Regions from separate parts of the Homo sapiens genome. Here all the other regions are linked to region 3. Evidence: fine-mapped expression QTL. A gene starts in region 3. Each other region holds a variant in brackets. All regions are shown on one strand. Distances are from middle to middle.

The links.
Region 1: its variant is fine-mapped to the expression of IFITM3-AS1 in whole blood (INTERVAL, PIP above 0.99).
Region 2: its variant is fine-mapped to the expression of IFITM3-AS1 in spleen (GTEx, PIP 0.98).
Region 4: its variant is fine-mapped to the expression of IFITM3-AS1 in whole blood (TOPMed, PIP above 0.99).

What each region holds. Positions count from the first base shown.
Region 1 is chr11:353,628-356,342 of GRCh38, forward strand. No RefSeq gene overlaps it. Among named protein-coding and RNA genes, the nearest start is that of B4GALNT4, 15 kb to the right of the region's middle. RefSeq lists silencers at 1-29, 2,498-2,715 and enhancers at 692-1,268, 774-1,063, 2,250-2,715. The variant C/T (reference allele first, on the strand shown) is at 1,637.
Region 2 is chr11:1,051,870-1,054,584 of GRCh38, forward strand. LOC124902605 reads left to right here. Exons shown (of 4, transcript XM_047427955.1): 4 at 2,370-2,715. LINC02688 (long intergenic non-protein coding RNA 2688) reads left to right here. Exons shown (of 4, transcript NR_160890.1): 3 at 2,370-2,523. Among named protein-coding and RNA genes, the nearest start is that of LINC02688, 3.3 kb to the left of the region's middle. The variant G/A (reference allele first, on the strand shown) is at 1,610.
Region 3 is chr11:316,872-319,447 of GRCh38, forward strand. IFITM3-AS1 (IFITM3 antisense RNA 1) reads left to right here and starts at 1,589. Exons shown (of 5, transcript XR_007062540.1): 1 at 1,589-1,875. RefSeq lists enhancers at 1-445, 790-1,149, 1,560-2,115, 2,116-2,576.
Region 4 is chr11:337,986-340,700 of GRCh38, forward strand. No RefSeq gene overlaps it. Among named protein-coding and RNA genes, the nearest start is that of IFITM3, 18 kb to the left of the region's middle. The variant A/G (reference allele first, on the strand shown) is at 1,040.

The DNA of each region.
Region 1 (2,715 bases), 37 kb after region 3:
GGGTTTTTCCCTGATGTTTGTTTCCTCGGTTTTTTTGTTTGTTTTTCCCTTCCCAGTATTTTTGGACTTGAACTTTAGAACTTCAACTTCTCTGAGGTTTAGCTTGGCGGGAGGAGGGGGATTAATTACCGTACCGTAATTTCTCCTGGGATACTGGATTTGGGAAAGGGTATATATCCTAATTTGCCATTCTGAATTGGTTGCATTTGATTAAAAGCATGACTTCTATCATGGAGGGTCCAGCCCTACGGGGCTTGGCGGGTGTTCTCCCCGTGTGTGGAGACGAGAGACCGGAAGAAATAAATACACAAGACAAAGAGATAGAGAGAAAACAGCTGTGCCCGGGGAACCACTACCACCAAGATGCGGAGACCGGTAGTGGCCCCGAATGGCTGGGCACGCTGATATTGATTGCATACAAGACAAGGGGGCAGGGTAAGAACGGTGAGTTGTCCAAGTGATTGATAAGGTCAAGCAAGTCATGTGACCATAGGACAGGGGCCCTTCCCTTACAGGTAGCGGGAGCAGAGAGGGAAGGCAGCATACGTCAGCGTTTTCTTCTATGCACTTTTAAGAAAGATCAAAGACGGCCGGGCGCAGTGGCTCACGCCTGTAATCCCAGCACTTTGGGAAGCCGAGGCAGGCAGATCAGTTGAGGTCACGTGGCCAAGACCAGCCTGGCCAACATGGTGAAACCCTGTCTCTACTAAAAATACAAAAAATTAGCCACGCATGGTGGCAGGCGCCTGTAGTCCCAGCTATTTGGGAGGCTGAGGCAGGAGAATGGTGTGAACCCAGGAGGCGGAGCTTGCAGTGAGCCGAGATCGCACCACTGCACTCCAGCCTGGGCGACAGAGCAAGACTCTGTCTCAAAAAAAAAGAAAAAAAAAAAGAAAGAAAGAAAGATCAAAGACTTTATTTCTTCTACCGCTATCTTCTAAGAACTTCAAAGAGGAACCAGGAGTAAGGGAGGAGCATGAAAGTGGACAAGGAGTGTGATCATTCAAGCACCACAGGGAGGGGGTTAGGCCTCCGGATGACTGCGGGCCAGGCCTGGAGAATATCCAGCCTCCCACAAGAAGCTGGTGGAGCAGAGTGTTCCCTGACTCCTCCAAGGAAAGAAGACTCCCTTTCACGGTCGGCTAAGTAACGGGTGCCTTCCCAGGCACTGGCGTTACCGCTTAACCAAGGAGCCCTCAAGCGGCCCTTATGTTGGTGTGACAGAGGGCTCACCTCTTGCCTTCTAGGTCACTTCTCACAACGTCCCTTCAGCACCTGACCCTATACCCGCCGGTTATTCCTAGGTTATATTAGTAATGCCACAAAGAGAAATATTAAAAGCTAATGACTAATAATGTTTATACTGATTGATAATGTCCACGATAAAAGCTAATGATTAATAATGTTTATACTAATGATTGATATGTCCATGATCATCTCTAATTTGTATTATAACTATTCTTATTCTCTTTATTATACTGAAAGTTTGTGCCTTGTCTTTTTTTTTTTTTTTTTTTTTTTTTTTTTTTTTGAGACAGAGTCTCGCTCTGTCGCCCAGGCTGGAGTGCAGTGGCGCATCCGGGCTCACTGCAAGCTCCGCCTCCCAGGTTCACCCCATTCTCCTGCCTCAGCTTCC[C/T]GAGTAGCTGGGACTACAGGCGCCCGCCATGTGCCTTCAGTCTTTTGCCTCCGCACCTGGGTAATCCTCCGCCCACACTATCACATGCCCTGAATAATGGGGTTAAGAACAATTTGGGGTGGAAAACAGGGTAGGAAGGGAACAGATGGCTCAGAACACAGGAAGTTAATTTAACTGCAGTCCAGGGAGGATGGCATTCTGGAAGCCGAGTCGGCCTGAGGTCTAAGGGGCGGAGGGAACTCCAAGCTTGGCCTGGAGCTCAGGGAAGGGAGCTCGCGTGGACTTCAGGAGCCCGGTGGGTGCTTCCTGTGCACAAACGGGCAGGGTCTGAGCTCCCACCGTCTGGAAATGCTGCCCAGTGGATTTCAGCCTCATTTTACCCAGCTCCCAATCAAGATGGAATTGCTCTGGTTCAAACGCCTAGCTTCGCCAGCTAGGGGGTGAACCGGCCACAGATCCCCGGAGGCCAACAGAAGACAGAGCCCCTGGGTCAGAGGCAAGGACGGTTGACTTCTCAGGCAGGGAGGTGGCCAAGGGAACCGCTTCTGCGGCGGCTTCCCAAGCCCCAGCTCCCGCAGAAGGCCTGGAGGGGCCCGGGGACCCGTGCCACGCAGTGAGTGGCGGCAGGACACGAGCCCGGGGGCGCAGCTTCCTGGACACTCTGCCCCCAGACACTGGCTGCCACGCGGGACGGTGACCAGCGCTGCCCTCGGCGCCCGGGAGGCCTCCCAGGGCTGTGCGCCAGGAAAACATTCCCGAACCGACGGCCGGGAATGGAACGGGGCGGGGCGTTTCCCAGCCCGAGGAAAACAGCCCTGAAAGCGCGGCCAGGAATGGATGGGGGTGGGGCGTTTCCCAGCTGCTCTCCAGGGAGCCGCCTGGAGCGGGGGAAGGGGGGGGCGGCGCGTTCCAACGGTGGGGGGGCTCGTTCCAACGGTGGGGGGGCGGGTCTGCGTTTCGGGCCCCCAGACACGCAGCACGCGGAGGAGCGCCCCGCCCCGTCTAGAGCCCCTTCCTCCACAGCAGGGCCGGGGCGCAGGGGGTCTCCCCGCACCCAGCGCGTCCCGCCCCGTCCCGAA
Region 2 (2,715 bases), 740 kb after region 3:
CTGGGTTCTCCACTCCTGGACCCGACCCTGGTCCTGGGGCAGTGTCCCAGCTGCTGTGTCCCAGGCCCCCCATCCACTGCCCTTGGCCCACCTTCTATGTGGCCCATTAGAGGGGTGTGGGGGCTGCAACCTGCTTCTGCTGAACCCCTAGGCCTGCCAGGGGGCATCAGGATTCTGCACAGAGAGGCAGGGGACCCGGCCAGACATGCAGGTACCCACGTACCTAATTCTGGGCCTTGGGGCAAGGACTGCGTATTTATCCTGGCCCAGGCAAGTCTGGGGGTGTCTGAGGGGTGGTGAGACGTCTGGGCAGATTGTCCCTGCCCTGCTCTGCTCTGCCCCACCCTGGCCAGCCCTCCTGGCTTCTCAAGGTGCTCCTGGCCACGATGGCACAGTCCCCCAGGCCCAAAATGTGCCCCCATGCTGCCCGAATGCCAGTGCGGGGGCTGGTAGCAACCAAGGCCATGCCCTCCCCTCCCCCTCCTGGGGCACCTGCCCCCACGCTGTGGCCATGGCTCCCTGGCTCCACCAGCTTCTTGTGACCCCTGAGGCTCCCCAGCTCCTGGCCCCCCATGGAGAGTTCCCTCCCCATAAGGGGGGGCCAGACACCCCCCTGTGCCCACTCCTTGGGAGACTGGCATTAGATCCTGGCTGTGGGACAGGCTGGGCCACTCTGGGGGTGAGACCAGGCTTCTCCCACCTGGGGGACCCATCCTGGCTCCGGACTTGGGCGGGTGACAGCCTGGGTTTCCTGTGTCCTCACCGCCCGCTTATCAGCAAGATGGGGATGTGGATGACAGGAGTGCTGGCCACGGAGGGCCTGGTGTGGGTGGCCGTCGGGACGAGGGTAGTGTGGGCGGCCACGGCAGTTGGTGCTACTGCTGGGAGGGGCCGAAGGTGAGGCCCTCCTGGGCTGTGGGTCCCTGTAAGCCACTGCCCCCGTGGGGTGTGCAGTCACCAAGCCGACCTGCTGCCGGGGTTCCGCCCCCTCCCTTTCCCTTCTGCTTCCCCGGCACCTGTGTCCCAAGCCTGAAGCCCTGTCCGTGTCAGAGGTGGCACCTCCCTGGGCACGGGCACTTGGACGCTGGTGCCTCCCCTGCTGCGGACCCCTTTGCTGTGGTCAGGGCCTCCTCCCTGCACTGGCCCCGCCTGTGACCGCAGGCCTGGCGGGGCCCTCAATGGCCACAGAGGGCACAGGCCGGGGCCAGGAGGGCACCGTCTCCTGGGGCACAGATATGCTGGAGTGAGCTATGGAATTGTCCATCAGCAGCGGCAAGCTTTGCTGAGCGCCAGCTGTATGCAGAGCAAAGGCGGGCCAGCCGGGAAGGGCCAGTGAGGACCTGGAGTCCCCAGCATCCCCAGGAGCCTGCACCCCTACGCGGGGGACGCCTGGGCAGCTCCTCCCTCCTCCACTCCCCGCCCTCTCCTCCCCTCCTTCCTGCAGTTCCCACAGCTGTTTGGGTGCCTCCCGTGGCGCCTGGTTGAGCTGCAGGGGGAGATGTGTGTGGACACTGCAACCCTCCCGAAGCTGGGCCTGGAAGAAATGACTTCCCCAGAACCTTATCTGGGCCGGAGAGGGGCGTTGGCAGCGGGGGTCTTGCCGCCTTCC[G/A]GTCCTCTGCATGCCAGGCACCACCTGGGGCCGGGCCAGGGCAGGCTGCCTGGACACCATGGACCTGCCCAGCTGTAGGGGAGGTGTGTCCTGCAGCCCTACCCGAGGCCCAGGCCTGCGTGGCTGAGAGGACTGAGGACGGCTGACCCCCTTGGTGACTGCCTGGGCCCAGAGGGGAGTTGGGGGAGTGGTCAGCTGGGTGTGGCCAGCCCTGGGGGAAGGATCCAGGGACTGTGTCCACTTAGGGATAGGAGGCAGCTAGCAGAGCCCTCCCAGCTGACCAGGGGAGGCCCTGTGGGCACAGGAGGGGCCCCAGGTGTAGGTACAGGTGCAGGGCTGTGCGGCTCTGTGTCACCCAGGTGGAGCGTCTTGCCCCGTTTGATGGCTGACAAAGTGCCCTTGAATGCGTCAGACCCAGCGTGGTCCCAGGGTCCTGACCCTAACATACCACCCCAAATTACCCTCACCCCAGCCTACCCCTGCCCTAAATTCACCCCAAGCCTCCACCCAAACCCCTTAGTCCCAACACCTTAACCCTAGACCCAACCCTACACCCCAAGCCCTAATCCCTAACCGCTAGCCTCACCCTAACCTTCCTACCGGATGCCACCTGGCAAACATCCTCCTGGCCCCTATCTGCCCCTCCCCCGGGGATCCGGGAGGCAGTGGGGTCCCTGGGAGGCTGCTCCCTGCAGAACGCGATGGACAGATGCATGGGCACCGGGCCCCAGCACCCTCTGGCTTCCTTCATCCTCCCCAGGCACTTCCCCCGGGCCAGAGGGCAGCCTGGCAGCCCTGGACTCCGGGAGGGCCGAGTCTGGGGAGCTGGACGACGTCACATTCCACTCTTGATGATGCCGCCCCAGTCCTACAATCTGGACAGCAGGAGAAGCTGCCCATTTCCTCCATCTCCGGTAATGAGAAGCAAATGCTGATCCTGGCCGTCTCCTGGCTCTTGGGTCCCTAGGTTCCTGCTGCCCCTGCCAGTTCCTGGAAGATGCCAGCAGGAGGGAGGGCAGTGGAGCTGGACTTGCGCCCACAACAGGATCTGGCCATAAACGCAGTCAGGGCGAGGCTGCGGGGTGGGTGGCTGAGCCTCCTGGTGG
Region 3 (2,576 bases):
CTCAGGAGGTCTTGAGAACATGGGCCCAAGGTGGTCGGGGCCCAGCTTGGTTTTATATATTTTAGGAAGACATGAGGCATCAATGAAATACATTTAAGAAATACATTGAAAAAAAAATACATTGGTTTGGTCGGGAAAGGCGGGACAACACAAAGCTGGGGGGTGGGGGGGCGGCGCAGTGCCCCAGGCTACAGGTGAATTTAATCCTCTGGTTGACGATTGAGTCCTTGAGTTTGTCTAAAGACCTGGGATTGGTAGAAAGGGGGTGTTCAGGTTAAAATAAAGATTATGGAGACCAAAGTTCTTTTGAAGTCTTATAGTGGCTGCCCTTAGAGACAATAGATGACGAATGTTTCCTATTCCTAAAAGGTGCTAGACTGTTAATCTCTTCAGGATTGGGAGGGTCTGGAAGAAAAAGATTTAGCTATGTTAATAGAGATTCTTTACAGCTGCAAATTTCCCCCTACAAAGAACAGCTTTGCCGGGGCCATTTCAAAATATGGCAAAGAAACTTGTTTTGGGGCAAAATATTTTTATTTTCTTCCTCATATCGTAATGTTCTGCCAGGGCCAGGTTGGAAAGTAAGTCATGATATACGTGGTTAAATAAAACCCATCTGATGAGAATTTATGGTTTGTAGGGCATGACTCCCCAAGCCCCTTAGGTAGGAATTTGGGCAAGATAAAAAATCAGAGTTTAGTCCTCAATCATGATGAGCTGCTGAGTTTCACACAAGGCCTGTTGTCATTTAAACTATAGCCTAAATGTCTCTCAAAGTCAGCTTGGCCCCAAAAACCAGGAATAATTAAAGGAAAGGCAAGATTGTGGGTGGGCTAGCTCAGCTCACAGTTATAATAATTCTTCTCACTGATACTGTTACAGCAGGTAGCTCCTCCGGCTTGAGCAGGACAGGAGAGCGCTTCCCACCCACAACCAGGAATGTCAGGCGACCCCTCAGGTGATGGTCAGGTGGTTGTTGCACTGTTTCTCTAAAATAATAATTGGTAGCAACCAGCGCCAAGGAAAGGCAGTCTCCCAGTAGATAGAAAAAAACCTGAAACGTGGTCAGGTTTATCCACAATCTTGCTCATGTGGTCCTGTGGCCCCCACCGAGGAGCTGGGTTAGGGTTGGGAAGACAGCTTCGACTCCCCAAGACTTCATCTCCAACCGGACCGGTCAGCGCTCCTGACTCACTGGCCGCCTACCCACCATATCATCCTTCGAAACTCGGATCCCCACGTTTTTGGGGAGAAGGATTTGAGTAATAATAAAACTCCCGTCTCCCCCGCAGCCGGCTCTGCGTGAATTACACTTTCCTTATTGCGATTCCCCTGCCCCGATGCGACCAAGGGGCCCGCCCAGGAGCGCAGAGAAACCATTAAGGGGTCACAGGACCGGGCTCCCAGGGTGACTCCCTGGCCACCAAGTCCTCCAGCAGGTCACTCCTGGATTCCGGCTGGACCCCCTGCCCAGGGAGGGGCCCAGGAGACGCGGAAATCGGGTCCCCCGCGGGTGAAGGGGAGGTGGGAGCCCCAGAGGAGGGCGGGAAGGCTCGGCCGGGGACGTGCCCGAGGGGGAGGAGAGGGGCTCCCGTCCGGGTCCGGCGCTGCGGGTCTCAGGGTCCGCGTCCCGCCCACCCCGCGGGGGTCTGGGCTGCGGGCGGAGCCTCCTCCGGGACCTGCACCTGCGCCGGCCGCCGCCAGGGGCGCCGCTGAGCACCCGCCTCCGCCGCTTCCCCCTCCCCGCCGGGCGGGGCCGCGCGCCTCCCACCCGGGACCCACTTCGGAGTTCGCCCCCTTCGGGACTCGCCTCCGGGAGACCCCCGAGGGGGAGAGGGCGCTTCCTCCGCGTCCATCGCCCTTGCCGCCCCTGGGGTGAGAGCGCGGCTCCGGGGCTGGGGGCGGGAAAGGGTGGGGAGGGCGAGTAGATCCAGACCTGGAGTCGCGGGTGGACGGCGGGGCGGGGGCGCGCATGGCCACCCCAGCTCCCACCGCGGCCGCCCATGGGGCACCCCACATGCGCACACCGGAGACCGAACCGGGGAAGGGCGCTGTAACCAGGTCGGGGCGGGGGTGTCTGTCCGGGGGCTCAGACCCGGGTAGAGGTAACTTCGATGAGGGTCGCTCCACTCTCCTGCGCCGCCCCCACCACGGGGGAGCAGGGCCCATACCCGCTGGACGGGAGGGGGCAGCTGCCACGAAGCAGCACCTGGTCACCCAGGAGGGGCTGCGAGGCCCGGGGCTCCTTCAGCTGCTGCCCTGGGCACAAAGCCCCCTCCCTCCCACGGGCCCTGAGCTGCCCACATCTGCAGGACTGGCTGCTCCAGACAGCTCGGAGGCAGGCAGCGCGGTGCCCCCTCCACCCCGAGGAACTAAAGCCAGGTCCCCAGCACCACAGAGCAGGGCCTGGGAGCAGCTGGGGAGCCGGTGCCACCTTGCCCCTCCCTGGCCCTGCTGGGGGCTTAACCCTTCCCTCTGTCCTGAGCCGACAGCCTGGATTGCCGACAGGCCGCGAGCGTGGCCTTGGGCCCAGGGTGTCCCGGACTCAGCACTGACGTTCCCGGAAAGAGCCCACG
Region 4 (2,715 bases), 21 kb after region 3:
ACCTAGCTAATATATATATATATATATATATTTTTTTTTTTTTTTGGTAGAAAGAGTCTGGCCATGTTGCCCAGCCTTAGAAGTCTTTTTAATTTCTTTTTCGAGATGGAGTCTTGCTCTATCGCCCAGGCTGGAATGCAGTGGTGCGATCTTGGCTCACTGCAATCTCTGCCTCCTGGGTTCAAGTGATTCTCCTGCCTCAGCCTCCCGAGTAGCTGGGACTACAGGCATGACCTACCATGCCCGGCTAATTTTTTTGGATTTTTAGTAGAGACGGGGTTTTGCCATGTTGGCCAGTCTGTTCTCAAACTCCTGACCTCAGATGATCCGCCCGTCTCGGCCTCCCAAAGTGCTGGGATTACAGGCGTCAGCCACTGCTCCCGACTAGAACTTTTAATACAGAATTTCAGATTTGACTTTGAAAACCTCTTGAGCCTAGAAAGCCATGCCATTCCATCAGACTTTTCCTGCAATACTGTATTAGTCCATTTTCATGCTGCCAATAAAGACTGAGCAATTTACAAAAGAAAGAGTTTAATTGGACTTAGAGCTTGCAGTGAGCAGAGATTGTGCCACTGCACTCCAGCCTGGGCGACAGAGCAAGACTCTGTCTCAAAAAAAAAAAAAAAAGCACACCTTCATACCTTATAATTTTTTTTTGTTTTTTGAGACTGAGTCTTGCAATCTCTGCTCACTGCAACTTCCACCTCCCGGGTTCAAGCAATTCTTCCCCCTCAGCCTCCCAAGTAGCTGGGATTACAGGCGTGCACCACCACATTCGGCTAATTTTTGTATTTGTAGTAGGGATGGGCTTTCACCATGTTGGCCAGGCTGGTCTCGAACTCCTGACCTCAGGTGATCCGCCCCCCTCAGCCTCCCAAAGTGCTGGGATGACAGGCTTGAGCCACCACAACCAGCCTCTTATAACTTTCCTTACCCAAAATTCGCCTTCCTTTGTTTGTATATTCTGCATACAGAGCTGCTTCCCTTATTATTTCTCGTAATTTTAATTACCATATAATTAGAATTCTAAACACTT[A/G]GTAACTTTAAAAGCTTTTCTTATCTTTTTTTTTTTTTTTTTTTTTTTTGAGTCAGGGCCTTCTTCTGTTGCCCAGACTGGAGTGCAGTGGTGCTATCACAGCTCACTGCAGCCTCAACCTCCCAAGCTCAAGTGATCTTCCCACCTTAGTCTCCCAAGTTGCTGGGACCACAGGCATGTGCCACCATGCCCAGCTTTTTTTTTTTTTTTTTTTTTTTGAGAGGAGTCTCACTCTGTCACCCAGGCTGGAGTGCAGTGGCGCGATCTTGGCTCACTGCAACCTCCGCCTCCCGGGTTCAAGTGATTCCCCTGCCTCAGCCTCCCGAGTAGCTGGGACTACAGGTGTCCACCACCATGCTCAGCTAATTTTTGTATTTTTAGTAGAGATGGGGTTTCACCATGTTGGCCAGGATGGTCTCAATCTCTTGACCTCGTGATCCACCCACCTCAGCCTCCCAAAGTGCTATGATTACAGGCGTGAGCTACCACACCCAGCCCAGCTAATTTTTATTTTTGGTAGAGATGGGCTGGTCTGGAACTCTTGGCTCAAGTGATCCTCCCACCTCAGCCTCCCAAAGTGTTGGGATTACAAGCATGAGCCACCACACCAGCTATTAACCTTGGTTTCTAGTGAAAACTAGCAAGTAAACACTTGTCAACTTTTTGCATACATACCAACATTCTGCAGATTGGCAAATCTGTGAATATACCATGTCATAATTTCTAGAAGTGTGTGTTTCTTTATCATACAATTTTTCAATATGGCACAGGATGTGTTTGCTGGCAGAGACAAGTATGTTTAGTACTTCTATAATAAGAAGCCAAAAGTAGACAAGCTTATGTTTAGCAATCAAAGTTTCAGTATTTTATGTTATTCAAAAAAAATAAGGTTTAAAAAATATCTTTCTAGATAGTCGATGAATAACCATCATTTAATTTAACTTGACTCTAACAGTGCAAGCTACCAAAGAGAATCGGCAAGCTGCTTTTAAGTAGATGTTTCATAACAGCAGACAAGGCTAGACATCATCAAATTGCTTTTCTTGGTGGCAACTCTTGTAACAGAGATAACATAAGTTTTTGCCTAATAAACCTAGGTAAAACCAAAGTTGTGTGTCTGCGTTTTATTTAATGCTGACAACTCTAAATATTTCATTAAACCAGAAAAGTTTAAATAGCATTTATTTACCAACTATAATCTCAGATGACATGAAATTTAAAAAACATTTGGGTTAGTTTCTATATTTCTAAGAGTTTAAGGATAACTCAACTTATATAAGCTCATATTTTTCTTTAAGCCAATTAAATACCACTTTTTTATAAATTAATTTTGGCAACGCAATCTAGAGTAGGAAAATGTCACGTGTACATGTATACATAGACATACATAAACATACAGACAGAAGCAGATCATATAGCTTTCTTTTTTTTTTTCACACTCTTCAGACACTAGAGTGTTACAGCTTCATTCTAAAATCTTAGCCACATGCCAAGCACAGTAATACAAAACACACTGTTTAATACAAGAACAATAGGCTTCAAATCTTGTTTCTGGCACATGGAACAAGTCAAAATTACTTGCCAGATGATTAAAGCTTTTATTAATATTTGCGGGAAAGACTTAAGGTTTTTCATTTGCCCAATTTCCATATAGCTCTTTTTTTTTCTTTTCTCAT